Linked DNA regions of Homo sapiens: regions 1 and 2 are each linked to region 3. Evidence: fine-mapped expression QTL. A gene starts in region 3. Each other region holds a variant in brackets. All regions are shown on one strand. Distances are between the middles of the regions.

Evidence for each region. PIP is the estimated chance that this variant, and not a neighbour inherited with it, causes the effect.
Region 1: its variant is fine-mapped to the expression of RCOR1 in whole blood (TOPMed, PIP above 0.99).
Region 2: its variant is fine-mapped to the expression of RCOR1 in whole blood (TOPMed, PIP above 0.99). The same link has a PIP of 0.9 or more in monocytes.

The regions. Positions count from the first base shown.
Region 1 is chr14:102,558,850-102,562,971 of GRCh38, forward strand. No RefSeq gene overlaps it. Among named protein-coding and RNA genes, the nearest start is that of LINC02323, 16 kb to the left of the region's middle. RefSeq lists an enhancer at 1,719-1,988. The variant T/C (reference allele first, on the strand shown) is at 1,938.
Region 2 is chr14:102,529,203-102,533,324 of GRCh38, forward strand. LOC105370680 (a long non-coding RNA gene) reads left to right here. Exons shown (of 4, transcript XR_944239.2): 3 at 1,654-1,826; 4 at 1,936-2,089. Among named protein-coding and RNA genes, the nearest start is that of MIR4309, 8.4 kb to the right of the region's middle. RefSeq lists an enhancer at 1-37. The variant G/A (reference allele first, on the strand shown) is at 1,702.
Region 3 is chr14:102,590,515-102,594,615 of GRCh38, forward strand. It overlaps RCOR1 (REST corepressor 1), which reads left to right and starts at 2,135. Exons shown (of 12, transcript NM_015156.4): 1 at 2,135-2,673; 2 at 2,752-2,811. The coding sequence starts at 2,373. RefSeq lists enhancers at 407-456, 738-1,553 and silencers at 1,132-2,441, 2,502-3,111.

The DNA of each region.
Region 1 (4,122 bases), 32 kb before region 3:
CACAGGGGCTCAAGACCTCAGTGGCAGGTCATGAGGAAGGCTGCCCTGCCAGCCTCACCCTGGCTCCCCACCCACTGCCTGCTTCTTTTTTTTTTTTTTTTTTTTTGAGATGGAGTCTCGCTCTGTCACCCAGTCTGGAGTGCAGTGGCGCGATCTCGGCTCACTGCAAGCTCCGCCTCCTGGGTTCACGCCATTCTCCTGCCTCAGCCTCCTGAGTAGCTGGGACTACAGGCGCCCGCCACCACGCTGGGCTAGTTTTTTTTTTTTTGTATTTTTAGTAGAGACGGGGTTTCAGCATGTTAGCCAGGATAGTCTCGATCTCCTGACCTCGTGATCCGCCCGCCTCGGCCTCCCAAAGTGCTGGGATTACAGGCGTGAGCCACCGTACCCAGCCCTGCCTGCTTCTTAAGTGGCCCAGGAGGACAGGGAGTGAGCTTGTCTCTCCCCACTGCAGGGTCCTGAGGGCTGGGGACTGTGCTGACACTGGTCTCTCCCCTGCCTAGGCATATCCTGTTCCTAGTGCTTGGAACACCCTTCCCACCCTCACATGCCTGGCAAATTGTTCTTCACCTCTAGGTTCACATGTCGCCTCCTTCAGCTTTAAATTCCTACACGAGGCCAGGCGCAGTGGCTCACGCCTGTAATCCCAGCACTTTGGGAGGCTGAGACGAGCAGATCACGAGGTCAAGAGATCGAGACCATCCTGGCCAACATGGTGAAACCCCCTCTCTACTAAAAACACAAAAAGTTAGCTGAGCATGGTGTCATGTGCCTGTAATCCAGCTACTCAGGAGGCTGAGGCAGGAGAATCGCTTGAACCCGGGAGGTGGAGGTTGCAGTGAGCCAAGATTGAGCCACTGCACTTCAGCCTGAGAGACAGAGTGAGACTCCGTCTCAAAAATAAAATAAAATAAATTCCTACACGAAGGCTGGGGCTGGCTCCGAGTGAGCGGGCCTGGGGTATTTGTGGGATAATGTAACTTGGGAGTGTCTAAGTAGGAAAAAACTTTAGGTTCTTCAGTCCCATTGTGCATGGGGAAACAGAGGCCCTGTGCTGGTAAGTAATGGGGCAGAAGCCAGGGTGGCTGCCTCAGTTGGAGGGAAAGCGGCACCAAGATTCACAGGACAGCTCTGGGGTCCTGGTCGCAGTCCCTGCCGTGCCGCCTTCTCACTCAGTGACCCTGAGCAAGCTGCTTGCCACGAGATGTCGGCTCCGTGGCAGTGGATAGCTTCAGCCGTGGGAAGTCCTTGGCAATCCCCTGGCTCGCGGCTGGTGCTCAGCTGGGTTCGCTCTGACTAGCACTGCACCTTGGTCACCACCTCGACTGCCACACACCCTCCCCCAGTGGAGACAGAGCCAGGGGTCTCTCAGCTTCCCCAACCCTGGCTCCCCATTGTCCAGCCTCAGGGATTTGGAGACTGGGACAAACTAGCCATGCGGGGGAAAGGTGTTCCAGAGGAGGGAACACAGTGAGCCAACAAGAGGATGGGATGGGGCAGGGCCTGTTCCAGGAACAGGCTGGGGTCACTCTCCCTTCTCCAGAGTCCAAGGCACATGGGTGGTGGGAGAAGAGATAGGAGAGGCTGGCGAAAACCAGCCCGCAAGGCCCTAAATGCCTGACTAAGAAGCTTCAGTCTTTCACTGAAGTTTTGGAGCTAGGTTGGGTGCAGTCAGATAGCTTGGGGGCTGGGCCGGAGCATCTGGTGGAGAGTGAGACACCGGTGTGAGCTGCAGCCCTCGCTGTGGGTCCCAGCACCCAGGACTGCACCCAGCCCAGGACTGCAGCAAGCAGGCACAGGATGCGTGGCTGACTGAGGCCTGTACTCCGACTGGAGTCACCTAGGAGATTGGCTGAGATGACCTCCAGAAGGGCCTTGCCCCAGGCCGGACCCCAAGGGGAAGCTGGCTCTATGTCTTTGGACGAGTTAGGAACTCA[T/C]TGGGGGTGGCTGCGGTTTTATTTGGGGATTCAGCTGTGCCCTGCACACCAGCTGCTGAGCAATGTCTCCAGGAAGCCACAGCTGCCCTCTGGGAGGCAGGGGGCCAGGTGCAGTAGAGGAGATGCCCCAGCGGCTCATGCAGGAGCTCACTCAGACGCCAGAACCCCAGCCAAGGAGGCACCCCAGACCCAGGCCCACCAGGGCCAGTGTCCCCACTCCACGACAGGGGCACTGCAGCCGGGGTGGACACCCAGCCTTGCTGCTCACTAGTCACGTGGTCTGGGCAAGTCTCTTCCTCTTCCCTGAGTGAGGTGAGGCAGGATGGGCTAGGATATGTGGTGGTAACAAACAACTCCAGTCTCTTTTTTTATAATTTCCTACAGACTTTTTTTTGTTCTTGTTGAGGCAGAGTATCGCTCAATTGCTAAGGCTGGAGCACAGTGGTGCTATCTCAGCTCACTGCAACCCCCACTCCCCAGGTTCAAGTTATTCTCTTGCCTCAGCCTCCCAAGTAGCTGGGATTACAGGCGTGCACCACCAAACCTGGCTAATTTTTGTACTTTTAGTAGAGATGGGGTTTCATCATATTGGCCAGGCTGGTCTCGAACTCCTGACCTCAAGTGATCCACCCGCCTCGGCCTCCCAAAGTGTTGGGATTACAGGCATGAGCCACCGCACCCGGCCAACCTGTAGATTTTTTGAGATAAAACAGCTTTATTGAGATCTAATTCACATATCACACAATTCATTTTAAAGCGTGCAGCTCTCTGTGGTGGATGGTATATTCGCAGAGTTGTGCAACCATCACCACAATCAATTTTAGAACATTTTCGAGGCCGGGCGCGGTGGCTCACGCCTGTAATCCTAGCACTTTGGGAGGCCAAGGCGGGCAGATCACCTGAAGTCAGGAGTTTGAGACCAGCCTGGGCAACATGGTGAAACCCCCCTCTACTAAAAATACAAAAATTAGCTGGGCATGGTGGAGGGCGCCTGTAATCCCAGCTACTCTGGAGGCTGAGGCAGGAGAATCGCTTGAACCCAGGAGGCAGAGGTTGCAGTGAGCCGAGATTGCACCACGGCACTCCAGCCTGGGCGACAGAGTGAGACTCTGTCTCAGAAAAAAAAAAAAAAAAAAAAGAACATTTTAATCACCCTCCAAACACACCATGTACCCATTAGTAACCACTCTCCATTTACCTGCTCTGCCCAGCCCCTGGCAACCACTCACACACTTTCCATCTCTATGGGTTTGCGTGTTCTGGACATTTCATATAAATGAAACCATATGACGTCGCCTTTTGTGACTGACTTCTTTCACTTAGCAAAACTTTTTAAAAATAGCTTTTATTGGCTGGGTGCAGTTGTTTGTGCCTGTAATCCCAGCACTTTGGGAGGCCGAGGCGGGCCGATCACGAGGTCAGGAGATCCAGAACATCCTGGCCAACATGATGAAACCCCGTCTCTACTAAAAGTACAAAAATTATCCGGGCGTGGTGGTGCATGCCTGTAATCCCAGCTACTCAGGAGGCTGAGGAAGGAGAATTGCTTGAACCAGGGAGTTGGAGGTTGCAGTGAGCCAAGAGCCCACCACTGCACTCCAGCCTAGAGACAGAGCGAGACTCCGTCTCAAAGAAAAAGAAAGCTGGCTGGGCGCGGTGGTTCACGCCTGTAATCCCAGCACTTTGGTAGGCCGAGGCGGGTGGATCACAAGGTCAGGAGATCAAGACCATCCTGGCTAACATGGTGAAACCCCGTCTCTACCAAAATACAAAAAATTATCCAGGCGTGGTGGCGGGTGCCTGTAGTCCCAGCTATTTGGGAGGCTGAGGCGGGAGAATAGTGTGAACCCGGGAGGCGGAGTTTGTAGTGAGCCCAGATTGCACCAGCCTGGGGACAGAGTGAGACTCCGTCTCAAAAAAAAAAGAAAGCTTTTTTTTTCAGAGCTGCCTGAGGTTCACGGCCAAATTAAGCAGAAGGTACAGAGAGTTCCCATGTACCTCTGCCCCCACACATGCACAGCCTCCCTCACAATCAACATCCCCCGCTGGAGCCGCACATTTGTTACAACTGAGGAACCTACAGGGCCACATCATCACCGGAAGTCCAGGGTTTCCATGAGGGTTCCCTCTTCCTGCCGGATGCTTCACGCGTTCGGGCGAATGTATAATGACTTGTCTCCACCAT
Region 2 (4,122 bases), 61 kb before region 3:
ACTGCACTCCAGCCTGGACAACGGAGCAACACCCTGTCTGAAAAAAATATAATAAATTAAAAATAAAGCCTGGGTGCAGTGGATCATGCCTGTAATCCCAGCACTTTGGGAGGCCTAGGTGGTCGGATCACCTGAAGTCAGGAGTTCGAGACCAGCCTGACCAACATGGAGAAACCCGGTCTCTACTAAAAATACAAAATTAGCCAGGCGTGGTGGCATATGCCTGTAATTCCAGCTACTCAGGAAGCTGAAGCAGGAGAATCACTTGAAGCTGGGAGGCAGAGGCTGTGGTGAGCCAAGATCGTGCCACTGCACTCTAGCCTGGGCAAGAAAAGCGAAACTCCATCTCAAAAATAAAATAAAATTAAAAAATAGCCGGGCGCTGTGGCTCACACCTGTAATCCCAGCACCTTGGGAGGCCAAGGCAGGCAGATCACAAGGTCAAGAGTTCGAGACCAGCCTGACCAACATGGTGAAACCTCATCTCTACTAAAAATACGAAAATTAGTCGGGCGTGATTGCACGCCCCTATAGTCCCAGCTACTCAGGAGGCTGAGGCAGGAGAATCGCTTGAACCCGGGAGGCGGAGATTGCAGTGAGTCAAGATGGCGCCACTACACTCCAGTCTGGGTGACAGAGCGAAACTGATCCCAAAAAATAAATAAATAGAATAATGAAGATAGAAATCATTTGGGGTCCCTGCACCCTACATAAAATGTCAAATCATAAACCCCAGGGCCTACTCTGAACCAAGACCTCTCTGTTCCTCACTGTACCTCCTCAGAGAAGAAACTCTGGAAGAGCAAGAAAAGTGTTAGACTCAGAGTCAAGCGGACCCAGTAGAAAACCCCAGAAAAGGACAGCTCAGACTCAATGGAAGCTTATTTTTCTCTCATTGTGAAGATGTCGGCCGGGCGCGGTGGCTCACACCTGTAATCTCAGTACTTTGGGAGGCCAAGGGGAGTGAATCGCTTGAGGTCAGGAGTTCGAGACCAGCCTGGCCAACATGGTGAAACCCCGTCTCTACTAAAAATACAAAAAAATTAGCTGGGCGTGGTGGCAGGCGCCTGTAATCCCAGCTACTTGGGAGGCTGAGGCAGGAGAATCACTTGAACCCGGGAGGTGGAGGTTGCAGTGAGCTGAATTGTGCCACTGCACTCCAGCCTGGGCAACAGAGCAAAATGCTGTCTCAAAAACAAAAACAAAAACAAAATCTGTTTAGAGGGGCCCAGGGCTTATATGGCAAGGAGTGTCACAGTGTCAGGAACCTGGGCTGCCTTTATTCCTTTCATCCTGTGGCTCTGCCGTACCTGGTTTTATTTTTTTTCTTTTTGTTTGCTGTTGTTTTTTGAGATGGAGTTTTGCCCTGTAGCCCAGGCTGGAGTGCAATGGCGCAATCTTGGCTCACTGCAACCTCCGCCTCCTGGGTTCAAGTGATTTTCCTGCCTCAGCCTCCAGAGTAGCTGGGACTATAGGCTCACGCCACCACGCCTGGCTGATTTTTTGTACTTTTAGTAGAGACGGGGTTTCACCATGTTGGCCAGGCTGGTCTCCAACTCCTGACCTCAGGTGATCCACCTGCCTCAGCCTCCCAAAGTACTGGGATTACAGGTGTGAGCCACTGTGCCTGGCCTCTTTTTTTCTTTTTTTTAGACACAGAGTCTGGCTCTGGGGCCCAGGCTTGAGTGCAGTGGTGAGACG[G/A]GAGAATAAGTCCTAGAGGAAGGGAACCTGAGGACTTCCCAGAACTAAATCAGATGGAGAGGAGAGAGGAGGCATTTCAGCTACGACAGGAAATATCCTCTTCATTTGCATAGGGCGTTCACCAAGTAAGTGACTTTGTAACTTCATCCTCTTCATTTACATAGGGTGTACACCCAGTAAATAGCTTTGTAACTTCACTTCAGTAACTCACTTTAAGCCTCTTCATTTACATAGGGTGCACACCAAATAACCAATGGAAACCTCTAGAGAGTATTTAAACTCCAGAAAATTCTGTGACGGGCTCTTGAGCCAACGTGCTCCGGCCGCTCCCACTCTGTGCAGTCGACTGTACTTTTGTTTTCAATAAAACTCTGCTTTTGTTTCTTCATTCTTTCCTTGATTTGTTTATACGTTTTGTCCAATTCTTTGTTCAAGACACCAAGATCCTGGAAACCCTCCAACGCTAACAGTGGCACGATCACAACTCACTGCAGCCTCTCCTGGGCTCAGGTGATCCTCCCACCTCAGCCTCTCAAGTAGCTGGGACTACAGGCCCACACCGCCATGCCCGGCTAATTTTCGTGCTTTTTGTAGAGATGGAGGTCTCCCTCGGTTTCCCAGGCTGGTCTCGAACGCCTGACCTTGTGATCCGCCCGCCTCAGCCTCCCAAAGTGTTGGGATTACAGGTGTGAACCACCGCGCCCGGCCTGGACCCTCCATTTCTTTTTTTTTTTTGAGACAGAGTCTCGCTCTGTTGCCAAGGCTGGAGGGCAGTGGCTCTATGTTGGCCCACTGCAAGCTCCGCCTCCCCGGTTCACGCCATTGTCCTGCCTCAGCCTCCCGAGTAGCTGGGACTACAGGCGCCTGCCACTACGCCTGGCTAATTTTTTTGTATTTTTAGTAGAGACTGGATTTCACCATGTTAGCCAGGATGGTCTCCATCTCCTGACCTCATGATCCACCCGCCTCGGCCTCCCAAAGTGCTGGGATTACAGGCGTGAGCCACCGCGCCCGGCCTAGTTTTCTTTTTTAAGACGGAGTCTCACTCTGTCGCCGAGGCTTCACTGCAACCTCCGTCTCCCAGGTTCAAAGGTTTCTCCTGCCTCAGCCTCCCAAGTAGCTGGGATTATAGGCGCCCACCACCATGCCTGGCTAATTTTTGTATTTTTAGTAGAGACGGGGTTTTGCCATGTTGGCCAGGCTGGTCTTGAACTCCTGACCTCAGGTGATCCACCCGCCTCAGCCTCCCAAAGTGCTGGGATTACAGGCATGAGCCACTGCACTGGGCCACATGAATAGTTTTCATTTCTGAGATCACTTCGTGTTCAAAATGGTTGCTGAAACTCCTGCCATTTTATCTGCATTCCCAGAAGTGAGAAGGGAGTAGAGTGTGCCTTTCCCTTTAAGAACTCTTTATGAAGTCAAACACACTCCTTACATTGAGGCCAAAAATTAGTCACATGGCCACACCTATGTGTAAGGGAGGCTGGGAAATGTCTTAATTCCAGGCAGCAAATGCCCTGATAAAATATCAGCTTCTAATCCCTTGGATCTCTGTGGGAGGTGGAGGTGGGGAGTGGAAGTGGAGGACCGTGAGCAATAGCTGATGTAATCACTGAGAAGCTGTGTGTCCTTGGGCAAATCCCTTCACCTCTCTGAGCTCCTGCCTGTCTTTGAAATGAGGATGTAGAAAGATCATCTCCAAGGACACTCCCTGCCTTGACATTTTGAGACTCTGGCGCAGGGAGCCCAGGGTGGTCAAAGACAAGAACAGAAGCTGCTTGGGTTTAAAAGTTGCCTGGCCAGGCACGGTGGCTAACGCCTGTAATCCCAGCACTTTAGGAGGCCGAGGCGAGTGAATCTCCAGGTCAGGAGTTCGAGAGCAGCCTGGCCAACACGGTGAAACCCCGTCTCTACTAAAAATACAAAAAAATTACCTGGGCATAATGACAGGCACATGTAATCCCAGCAACTTGGGAGGCTGAGGCAGGAGAATCGCTTGAACCCAGGAGGCGGAGGTTGCAGTGAGCCAAGATCGCGCCACTGCACTCCAGCCCTGGCGACAGAGTGAGACTCCGTCTCAAAAAAAAAAAAAAAAAAATGTTGCCTGTTCTGGGCTGGGCGCGGTGGCTCATGCCTATAATCCCAACAATTTGGGAGGCTGAGGCAGGCAGATCACAAGGTCAGGAGTTCAAGACGAGCCTGGCCAACATGGAGAAATCATGCCTCTGCTAAAAATACAAAAAATTAGCCGGGCATGGTGGCAGGCACCTGTAATCCCAGCTACTCGGGAGGCTGAGGCAGGAGAATCTCTTGAACCCAAGAGACAGAGGTTGCAGTGAGCCCAGACTGTGCCACTGCACTCCAGACTGGGCAACAGAGCAAGACTCCATCTCAAAAAAAAAAAGAATGGCTAAGGCA
Region 3 (4,101 bases):
TTAACGTTGGGGTTCCCTATGCTGGAAGGATGGACTCTATTACAGTCCATCAGGCCAGGAGGTAGGTACTGTTTCCTGTATTTTACGGTTGGTAAATCTGAGAGCTTCAGGCCAATACAGTATCGGTGTAGCATTAGGGTCAGACAAAATAGAACAGGGCCCGGCACATATTAAGTGTTAATATTCGTTGGAAAAAAAAAAAAAAGAATGCTTGTCAAGTCCACTGCTGCGCCCCTACTGGTAGCCCAGCCTGGCCTCAGCCTTGGGGGCTGGTGGGTGGAGAGGGCGGCCTTGTGTGCTCTGCTATCCCTATTGCCTTAATGACCCAGTATCACCTTTGTGCCCTTGTAGGTTGATCCTTCTAGTCTCGTGGCAGAACTTTGTAGACACCAAGCGAGCGGGGCAGCGTGTTCTGGACCTCATTCCTCACACAGGGCTCACCTCCGGATGAGTCAGAGGCCTTAGCCGGTGGCCCAGCCCCGGGAATGCCACCCCGGTTCTGTACCCTGCCCAGGCCAGCTGACAGGGTGTATTGGGGCACACACCTGCAGCATCCAGGGCACTCCAAGGAGAGGGACGTACTTTTGAGGAGAGTCTAAAAGTCTAAGTCCCCCACCTGAACTTGGTGGGGGAAGGGCTTCTATACCAGGAGGGCTCCCAGCCCTGTTTCTTAAAGGCCATTTAGGCAGAAGTGAACGTGGTCTCTTCAATAAAGTTAATAATGGTTCATGCTGCAGAAAATGTTCAAGACAAAACCCTGCTTATTTACTCAGGCTTTAAAACCATAAAACTCCCAAATTCTCCCTGTAGCTATTTATATCCAGAGCTAGTCCCCAAATTAAGCTCAGGTTTGAAGTAACTTAAAAGAAAAATAGCCTTCCCTGCTTTAAAAAGATTTTCCGTATAGACCTCCACTGGTCTAATTACGAAGGGCGCGTAGTTTCAGGGTTGGCTGGGGGTAGGGCACCGGGACCTCCAAGGCAGTTACACTCCTCAGCCTCCTAACAGCTGTACGGCTGCCCGGTGGTCCCTCTCCAAGGCAGCGGCTCTCAGGCTAGCCTCAGCCTACCCCACCCGCCCGCACCCCGTGTTCTCCCTCGTGGGGGTGCCGGGGGGAGTAGGGAGGCGGGGCGGGCGGCAGGTCCGGAAAAGTGGCTGCCCTCGCCCCGAAAGAAGTTGACCCTCCTCCCGTGCCGAGAGCTTGGGATGAAAATAGCTTCTTCCTCTTTACCCTTCCTGGACCCCCGCCCCAGGACGACTGGGCCCCTTCATTCATCTTTCAGCGGCCACCCAGGCGGCTTGGGCGTCCCCACGCCGGGACTCTGTGCCCCGGGGACCCACGGGGACCCTCCCTTGGGCCTCTGAAGCCGCGGCGCACCCCGCACCCAAGCCACCCCGGGGGCCCCGGCCTCCCCCACCCAATTAGCGGGCAGCACCGCAGACCCGAGTCCCCACGCAGCTCGCGCCAGGGGAGGCGGCCGCCTGGGAAGCCCGTCCCCCGCGCCGCGGCCCCCGCCCCCGCCAGCCCCGCGTCCCCTGGGAAAGGCGGGGGCGCAGCGAGTTTCCCCCAATTAGTTTCCTCTTTGTATGGAGTCTTAGCGCGCCCGTACTCCTCCGCGCAGCGGAAAGTAGTCCCGGCCGGGCGCTCCGCGGCTTCCCAGCGCCAGACACATTTTACTTTGAGAAGTCGACGGGACTCTCAGCGGGGTCCTTCAGATGGGGGGCCAGAGGCTGCGGGAGGCGTGCGCGGGCAGCAAGGGCAGGGGCCGCGGCCAAGGGTAGGGGGCGGGGAGGGCCGCGAACTCCTCGCCGCTGCCTGGAGAGATGGATCATGGGGCGTAGGGAGATGGCAAACCTCAAACCACGTACGGCGGGCGATACGCGTCAACCGAACCTCGCCAACGGAAGCCCGGAGCCGCCCCTCCCCGCTCCCCCGCCCCGCCGCCCCGGACGGACGGGCGCGCGGAGCCAACCCCGCTGCCGCTGGCTGTCCAAATCCCACCAGAGCCAATGGGAGCGCGAGGGGGGGCGGAGCCATCTCGCGTCAGTTGGGCTGCGCGCCCCCCTCCCCCGGCGCCCCTGCAGGCCCCGCCCCTGCCTCCTCCCCTCTCCGCTCGCTGCTCCCGGAGTAGTTGGTGCCAGTGAAGTGAGGGCGGCGATGAGAGCGAAAGTTGCGCTCGGCTCGTCGCTGGGGGCTTGAAGCGGCTCCGCGCTCTGCCCGTTTGGGCCTCCCCCGACTCGGACTCGCGCCCGTGGGCTCCCGCCGCGCCCGCCCGGCCCCGCGCCGGCCCCGCGCCCCCTCCCCCGTCTCGGCGCCCCCTCCTCAGGAGCCGCGGGTCCCCGCCACTTTCGCACGGCCCCGGCCCCCGCCGATGCCGGCCATGGTGGAGAAGGGCCCCGAGGTCTCAGGGAAGCGGAGAGGGAGGAACAACGCGGCCGCCTCCGCCTCCGCCGCCGCCGCCTCCGCCGCCGCCTCGGCCGCCTGCGCCTCGCCAGCCGCCACTGCCGCCTCGGGCGCCGCCGCCTCCTCAGCCTCGGCCGCCGCCGCCTCAGCCGCCGCCGCCCCCAATAATGGCCAGAATAAAAGTTTGGCGGCGGCGGCGCCCAATGGCAACAGCAGCAGCAACTCCTGGGAGGAAGGCAGCTCGGGCTCGTCCAGCGACGAGGAGCACGGTAGGTGGCAGCCGCCCCCGCGGCCCCGGGCCCCGCGCCCCGCGCCGCGCTGACCGCCGTATTCTGCTTCCCCCGCAGGTGGCGGTGGCATGAGGGTCGGACCCCAGTACCAGGCGGTGGTGCCCGACTTCGACCCCGGTGAGTAGCGGCCCCGGCCGGCCGGCGGCGGGGATGAGCGGGAGCCCCGGGTCCCCGGCGAGCCCGAGGGGGCGGGAGCCCGCCGACAACTTTCTTTTTGTGCGTTCGCCCTGCCGTCCGTGGGGAGAACAGCAGGGCGAGGACGAGGAGGCGCACACGCACACGAGTGTTCTGCAAACGTGCCTCTGCACCCGGGGGAGGCCAGGTCGCCCCCAGCAGGGCCGGCGCCGCTGCCCCCTTGCGCCTCCGAGGACTGCGGGTGGCGTCGGAGGTGGCCACACCTGGCCTGGGGGCGCTGGGGGTCCCTGCGTCCAGGTGAGCTGCGCCTCGGCCAGGGGTAAGGGTGGCAGTGCCGGAGAGTTAGTGTCCTGCGAGCGCCCCGGACTTAGGAGGTCCCCAGAGACCCCTTTCTCGGAACCCTTCCCAAAGGCTGCTCCCCACGCCTTTGCTCCTCCTCTCAGCCTCTGGGCTCTTGCTGGCTCCTGACTGCCCTCCCATCCAGAAGGCGAGTAGAAGAACGACCCCCCAAAACCAGTCAATAAAAGAAGTGTGTTTTCCAGAGGGCGCCTGCCTGGGGAAGAGAGTCTCGCGTGTGGCAGTTGGATTTTAGGACCTATTTGTAAATGTGTGTATTTCCTTTTTTTTGGAGGAAGAGATTGTGAAATTGAGAAGCATCAGAAGCTTTAGCCTAACAAATGCTTTTCACCTACAAGAAAGCCCTACACCCTAGAATGGAACACTTAGTTCCCTGGCTGCTATTCTGTGTAGAAGCAAATTTAAAGTGGTACAAGAAAAAAAATCCGATCAGACAAAGGAATTCGTCAGATTTTAATGCATGAGATTCTAGCCAGTGTCTGTATGAGACTGTCTTTAAAGGTTGTTGGTATGGAAAATGTTTGAAAGAACGTAGGATTTATTTCAGAAATAAAATTCAAAAGAGCATCTTGTAAAGCTGGAGTTAACAATCCTCCATGGTTGGAGGGCTTTAGAGCTGGGGTTCTGTATGTGGGTTATACCACTAGTTTATTTGAAAAGATAAACGCATACATGTTTTTTCCTTGGAAACAAGACTGCAGAAAATTGCAATGATCTAGTCCTTGAAAAAGGCGATTGCTCTCAAGCTGTTATTAAGGTACTAAACTGCACTTTGAAGTGAAAATACATAGAGGTCCTAGGTGAGCTCTTGGACACTCTGGAAATAAATGACTTCCTAAATTGGCCTTCTAAATTTTGATTTGTTGACGTAAATCTGTTAAATTTATTTGTCTAATACTCGCGTTTGTGTTTCTT